2 linked regions of the Homo sapiens genome follow. The protein of the gene in region 2 purifies or fractionates together with the protein of the main gene of each other region. This does not show direct contact. Each region holds a gene or a part of one and is shown on either strand. Other genes may lie near its edges.

Evidence for each region. The genes of interacting proteins can lie anywhere in the genome.
Region 1: the proteins of TXNRD2 (region 2) and AKR1B1 fractionate together in Homo sapiens (co-fractionation; one large-scale study listed by BioGRID). This does not show direct contact.

The regions. Positions count from the first base shown.
Region 1 is NC_000007.14:134,441,934-134,445,600, reverse strand, and holds the end of AKR1B1 (aldo-keto reductase family 1 member B1), read left to right. Parts: intron 1-280; coding exon 281-363; intron 364-2,830; coding exon 2,831-2,873; 3' UTR 2,874-3,245; downstream 3,246-3,667. UniProt on the Homo sapiens protein: Catalyzes the NADPH-dependent reduction of a wide variety of carbonyl-containing compounds to their corresponding alcohols.
Region 2 is NC_000022.11:19,910,761-19,914,427, forward strand, and holds part of TXNRD2 (thioredoxin reductase 2, mitochondrial isoform 5 precursor), read right to left. Parts: intron 688-3,667; coding exon 617-687; intron 1-616. UniProt on the Homo sapiens protein: Involved in the control of reactive oxygen species levels and the regulation of mitochondrial redox homeostasis. Maintains thioredoxin in a reduced state. May play a role in redox-regulated cell signaling.

The DNA.
Region 1 (3,667 bases), on a different chromosome or scaffold from region 2:
CTTATCACAATAGAAGTGCTCAGTAGTGTTTTTTGAAATGAAATAAAATGTATCATTTCCCTGGGAGGTTCTGGAAAGGAAGGACTGTTTCCATCGTTCCATATATTATCTAGCCCAACATGCACATTTCCTGAATACTAATATATCAGCTTTTCCTAAGTTCAGTTTATCTTATCGCTCCTCTCTGCTCAAAGCCATGGAAGACATCTGGGTCCTGCACAGTATTTTGTCTTTTATTTTTATTTGCAGAGCTTACTGGATTTTTTTGTTTGTTTTTTAGGTCTTTGACTTTGAACTGAGCAGCCAGGATATGACCACCTTACTCAGCTACAACAGGAACTGGAGGGTCTGTGCCTTGTTGAGGTGAGTGAGCCCCAGTGTGAGGAGCAGTTCCCAGGAGATATTCAGATGCTGCACAGCAAGAGAGTGATCCCTGCAGGCCTCAGCGCCAATGTGCTCTCGTCACAGCTGTTCTTGCTTTGCACATTACCTTGCTTTCTCAGCCACGTGACTTGCATCAGCTGAACTGCATGGAGCCAAGATGCCAAGAGATCCGCTCTTGATATCTTCTTCCAGCCCTGGGGCATTGTTGGCCTGGCCTGAAGTAACTACATATTTTGGCTTTCCATTCAATTTTTAAATCCTAGCAGTTCATCTGAAACTAGGTGATCCCAGGTGACCCTGGATCAAACTCTGGAAGAATTTGCCTGTGACTTTTTGTCTTAATGACCCTAATGAAAGGGGTTTGGTCGGGAGCCCCTGGGGCTGAGGTTTGAGACAGTCCCGGCTCTGACCTGGTAAGCCACATGGCTCCAAAACAGGCCCTCCCTCTGAGCAGCAGGCACCTCAGTTCCTCCAGCCACACATCCTCTGGTTCTGTTTCCTCTGCATGGTAGTTTGGAAGGAGCTGCCTAGGAAGGTTTTCTGTGGGGTTTTCTCTTTTCCTACCATTACAATAACTAGGTGACGCATGTAACTCACTTTCTGCTTTCAAGAAGGAACTTCTCATTTTGCAGTGGAGACTGAGACTCTGTTTCTCTCTCACTACCCTTATTCTTGTCTGAGCTCTGTGTTTCCACACTCTCTCCTTTAGTACTTCCTCTTCTAAGCAAAATGTGAACATTCCCTAAGATGGGGTGGGCTACCAGCTTTCCCTTTCCAGCGTCTGTCCCATCTCCCTCCCCGGAGTTTGCACTGCTGGTGGCTTCAGCCACCGCCCCAGGCAGATGTTTGCCCAGTCTGCGTCCTGGACAATAACTCTGGCCCTGCTTCAGGCATATGCGTGCCTGGCAAGCCTGCTGCTGCCACACTGTGGCCTCACACTCAAAATAGGCCGCAAACAGAGCATGTCACAGGCAGCCCCAGGCCAGTGCCCTTTCAGACATCTCTGTTAATGCTACTTAGCCCTAGACATTAAAATCATTTTTGGATCTAGTGGACAAGGAGGAGAGGAGTGAATCAGTCACCAAGCTACATTCGTTCTCCTTTCAGAATCTCTCCCATTCATCCGTCTTCCTTTTCCCCTCCCACTTGAGACAGAGTGGATTGAAGCTTTCAGGGCTGAGGAAACACAGTGGTTTTCTCATTGCTCCCTTTACAGTTAGGCTCCTCTGCCCTCCAGTATTGTGCTAGAAACTTCTGTTCGATTATCCTGTTGCGTGGCGGTGAGTGGGAGGAAGAGGCTAGCCCTGACATGCTCAGGTCTCCTAGGGAGTTTTCGCTAACTACACACACACCACCCCTCTGGCAGATAATGCTTTACTGAGCCTGACCTGCTGATGTCAGTGTCACTGTGGGTATACAAAAAAGGCAGACCATGGAGAACTTTTGAATAAGAGTTACAGACTGTAAGCACCCAGCTCAGATTACATAACTCTGGCCTTGCGTGAGCTGCCCAGCTATCTGTCCAGTGTTCCTGCCTTTATGTTCCTAGCACAGCCATTGGCCCTACTAGATGGACAGTGAGTGAGCCTTGACAAACACGTCTGCACCTGTGCTCCCTGCCATGTGCTCCCTGCCCTGTGCTCCCTGCCCTGTTTCCAATATAAAATCGCCGACCGTTGATTGGGCTCACTTCAGCCCCCACTGATACAAGGAGGCTCCCTCTGTCCTCAGAGCACTTGCCGTTGCTTCTCTTATCCTTTGAGATTCAGTCACATACAGACTTTTAACATCCCTTTTTTTTTTTGAAATGGGCTCCTACTCTGTCACCCAGGCTGGAATGTAATGGCATGATCACAGCTCACTGCAGCCTTGACCTCCTGGGCTCAAATGATCCTCCCACCTCAGCCTCCCAAGTAGCTGGGGCCATGGGCATGCACCACCATGCCTGGTTAATTTAAAAAGTTTTTTTATTAAGATGGAAATCTTGCTATGTTGCCCAGGCTAGTCGCAAACCCCTAGCCTCAAGTGATCCTCTCGCTTCAGCCTGGGATTACAGGCGTGAGCCACTGTGTCTGGCCTGCCTTCTCATATTATTACACAAGATGTTTAAGACCACAAAATACTGTCTGGTCCTGCCAGCTAGACTGAGTTACTGGAAGGCAGAAATCGTGTTGCCGTCCTGCACGGCCCAGGCACAGTGCTGGGCACATGGGGAGGGTGGTGTCCCTCACACATGTGCTGCTTGATGACAGTAGTGGTAGAGGGGTCTGGAGGGTGAGTTGCTTCCCCCAGCTGCAGAACCATCATCTGCACACTCAGAACTAGCTTGTTGCCTCTGAGGTTCTATTTTATTTCTTCAGTGAGACACATCATTTCTCTGTTGGGAGTTGGGTATAGTCAAAATCACCTCTTCAAAAAGCAACTGTTTTCTCCTTTCTCCTGACAGCTGTACCTCCCACAAGGATTACCCCTTCCATGAAGAGTTTTGAAGCTGTGGTTGCCTGCTCGTCCCCAAGTGACCTATACCTGTGTTTCTTGCCTCATTTTTTTCCTTGCAAATGTAGTATGGCCTGTGTCACTCAGCAGTGGGACAGCAACCTGTAGAGTGGCCAGCGAGGGCGTGTCTAGCTTGATGTTGGATCTCAAGAGCCCTGTCAGTAGAGTAGAAGTCTCTTCCAGTTTGCTTTGCCCTTCTTTCTACCCTGCTGGGGAAAGTACAACCTGAATACCCTTTTCTGACCAAAGAGAAGCAAAATCTACCAGGTCAAAATAGTGCCACTAACGGTTGAGTTTTGACTGCTTGGAACTGGAATCCTTTCAGCAAGACTTCTCTTTGCCTCAAATAAAAAGTGCTTTTGTGAGCTTGGTTTTGTGAGCTTTGGTTTTTTAAAACAATAGCAACCTTCTATCTCACTTCAACCATCACTCTCCACATACCCATAAGGCAGGCCAGTCAGTGATGCAAAAGGAGTGAGGACTTGACTTTTCTACAAGTCCTCAACTGCAAGTTGGGGGCCCCTCACCCCAGTACTTTACCCATTTAGCTTTAGGGTTGTGGGTCTCATCCTGGCTGCACACCAGGTCACCTTTGGGGGCTTTAAGGCTGGTGATGTCTGGACCTCGCCCTGGAGGCTGATCTGATTGGGCTGTGATCAGGACAGCAGGAGTGTACAGGCTCTCCAGGTGATTCCAGGGTGCAGCCAAGGCTGAGCCACAGCTTTAGGGTAAACCCATGTTCGATTCCACAGATTCCTTGGTTGCTCCTTCTACGTATGAAGGCCGA
Region 2 (3,667 bases):
CTATGCTCGGTTAATATTTTCAGATTTTTGTAGGCTGGGTGTGGTGGCTCACGCTTGTAATCCCAGCACTTTAGGAGGACGAGGTGGGCGGATCACCTGAGGTCAGGAGTTCAAGACCAGCCTGACCAAGATGGTGAAACCCCATTTCTACTAAAAATACAAAAATTAGCCAGATGTGGTGGTGGGCGCCTGTAATTTCAGCTACTTTGGAGGCTGAAGCAGGAGAATCACTTGAACCTGGGAGGCAGGGATTGCAGTGAGCCAAGATTGGGCCATTGCAATTCAGTTTGGGGGACAGAGTGAGAATTCACCTAAAAAAAAAAGCCAAAAAAAAAACCAAAACAGATTTTTGTAGAGTAGAGGTCTCACTATATTGCCCAGGCTGATGCTGATCTCGAACTCCTGGCCTCAAGCAATCCTCCCGCTCAGTCTCCCAAAGTGCTAGGCTAACAAGCATGAGCCACCACACCTGGCCACAAATAACAGGCCTTTTTTCCTTCTTTTGGGTAAACCGGAAAGAAAGCCCCAGGAGCCCAGCACCAGCACAGGCTCTAAGGGTCCAGTGCTCACTCTGGTGAACAAAAAGAGGACCCCACCAAGCACGCGCAGGCCTTACGTTTTTCCAGGGGATTCCTTCAGCCAGAAGATGTCATCACTTGTGATTCCATATTCCAAGGCACCTTCGATCTGTCAAGACAGAAATGACCCCTTGGACAAGAGCTCCATTTGGCCTGTCCTAGGGCTTCCTTAAAGAGGATGCCAGCTTTGCAGAATCAAGCAGAGCTTTCCCAGGGCACACATGCACAGGGCTTCCCTGCTGCCAGTCCTTGTCTGCAGGCTGTGGCCTCTTTGGGGCTGCAGGTGGCCTGTCTGCATCTAAGCTGCTGCACTCCAGGTCCCGGTGCCCTCGCAGGGTACCTTTCCCCTCTGTTCCCCAGGACCCTCCCCTTGACCCTGGTTCAGAGCAGGATACAGGGCCTGAGGTGGGTACAGCAACTGCAGGGGCCATACAGGCAGACAGCTGGGACCCCTCAAGTCTGCCCGGGTTCTGGACAGACACATCAAACAGACAGGGGCATGCAGCCCCAGGGAGCAACACCTGGGTTCTGGGGGATCCAAACTCAGAGAGAGGAAGTGGGGAGAGAACAGGTCAGCAAATCAGGGCCAGCAGAGCTCAGGTGTGTCTGCGCGGCAGGGGTGGCCTACAAGGCCAGCCAGAGGAGAGGAGGCACAGGGGGTAAGTGCCACAGGCTGAGGTGGGCAGGGACTGAGGGGCAGCTCTGAGGGCACCTGGCTGAAGCCAGGACGGACTTCACACTCTCGAGGGCTGGCCCGGGTGGGCTCTGAGCCCAGAAATCATACAGGTCACCTGAAGAGGGGCGGCCAAGCAGGTGGGAGGCCCAGGGTGAACGTCCCCTTAGCGGCCATGAGAACAAGATGTGCTGGTGGAGGAAGCGGATCTCAAACAGTTTATGCTTCCAACTGGCAAAAAAAAATAAAGTCAGGAATTTCTCAGGTTTACTCAAGGAAAACCGAAAGGTCTGGCAATCAAAGGGACTAAAACGCAAGCAAGCCTTGGCAGACACCCTGGGAGGGCGTGGCAGGGAGAGCGAAGCAGCCCTGAGCTGCCTGCCTCCTAAGGACCAGGAGCGCCTGCTGGATCCCCTGTGAGCCCAAAGAGCCGTCAGCAGCTGCCCGTGAGGTGCAGAGCAGGGCCGGGCCAGGCCAGGGCCCCTGTGCAGTGCTCCCTGGTGCGGATGCACGTGCAGCTCTGCCTGGGGCCTCAGAGAAACCCAATGACCGCTGGGCTGCTGGAAGCTGGCTGTGGCCTTCTTTAAGCAGAACCACCATGAGCCCAGCTGCCAGGAGAGGGGATCACTGGGACCCTGTCTGCAGCAGCTGCCTTGAACAACTGCACAGTGTCATCCTACAAAGTCACGCAGCCCTGAGCCCCACCTCTGTGCATAAGCAACCTGCCCCCTCTAGAGGCTGCTGTGGCTGCCTGGCGGCCAGACAAGTCCCACGGCCTCTAAGGACTGGGGGTGCTTGTGCTCCTCGGGGCCGCTCCTTTCCCTGTTTCCACAGTAAGCACAGGACGAAGTGGAGGCTGGGGTCACATCCAAGAAGTGGCAGAACCTCCCCTTGCTCTGCCTCCACCGGACTGCCCCTGGGTCTAAGTCAGAGGTGGTGTGGCCTCCAGGCCGAGAGAGCCGTGGTCTTCAAGAGCTTGGCTGCAGCCTACTTAGAGGCTTGGAGCAGGCGGCACACGGTTCCCTGGGAGACCCGTGGGGACTGGTCTCAGCCAAACCTCTCTGCTCACCCCCAGCCCATTTGCTTTCCCTGCTGCAGCTGCCCCCCAACCCCTCACCCCGGGGCCCCTTCCTCAACTCTGCCCCCACAACCCACAAGACTGGGCCAGGAGTTATTCACCTCTCTGTTAAAAACAGCGATAAAACTGGCAAGAACTGGGAGATTCAGAATTATGGAAATTAACCACAGGCTTGCAGCAACACAGGGAACATTTAAAGTCAGGAAAAACAGCTGAAGCTGAGTGAGAATGGGAACTCCAGGGTGTTTTAACTCACTCTGGTCCCACTCCCACCTCAGCGGCAGCCCTGAACAGTGATGTGTCAGAGAGAGCAGAACTCAGCTGGGGTCTTTCAAAGCCCCCCCACAAAGAAGAGTCAGAGTCAGCAACTATAGGGTCATCTTCATCCAACTTCACCGGAGCTCAGCCAGGGCTAAAAGCCTTTCTCTGGGGGCATTTGTCTGAGGTTTTCTTCTCACAGCTGCCTGAGGGGATAGGTAACAGTTAGAGCCAACAACAGACTGCCCAAAAAGCTTCAAAGGAAAAGCCAAAGTATGAGATGTCTGCTGGAGCTTTGAAAGGTTCCAGCATATTCCTGGGAACCTAGGCCAGGCGCATGCACAGCACTGTGCACACATCAGGAAGGACCAACGAGGCCCTGAACCCTCACCTCCAGCTGACCTTGATCTCTGCAGAAGCAGGAAGTGAAGGCTAGGGCAGAGCTGTCTGCTGCCTGTTGAGTGTGGAAGGCATCCCCTCCAAACGCACACAGAGCCCTCAGCAAAGACCGGGAGAGTTCTTAGTTTAGGGAAATCTCCATGCAGTTCTTAGCTGACCACTAAGCTAACCAAGTAAAGACTTCAGTGGCCACATACATCAAAGAATAAGAGTCTACAAAGTCAGTTCCGAAAAGTCACCAAATAAGCAGCTGTAACAACAGAATCCTGGGGCAGAGGGAGAATCTGGTTTCCAAAGTTATCGCATTAAATTATTTGAAATGTTCAGCTTTCAATAAAAAAATTACAAGATACGTGAAGAAACAAGAAACCATGACCCTTACACCCCACTGGAAGGAATGTAAAACACAGTCATTGTGGAAAACAGTCTGAGGTTCCTTGAAACGTTCCTTGAAAGATTCAACATAAAGTTACCACATGACCCAGCAGTTCTGCTCCTAAGTGTAACCCAAGAGAAGTGAAAACTGAAGTCCACCAAAAAACTTCTTTGCAGATGTTCACAGCGGCACTATTCATAATAGCTAAAAAGTGGAAATAACACATGTGTTTATCCAAGCAAGTAGATAAACAAAGTGTGGTCTATCCATACAATGGAATAGTATCTAGCCATAAAAAGGAATGA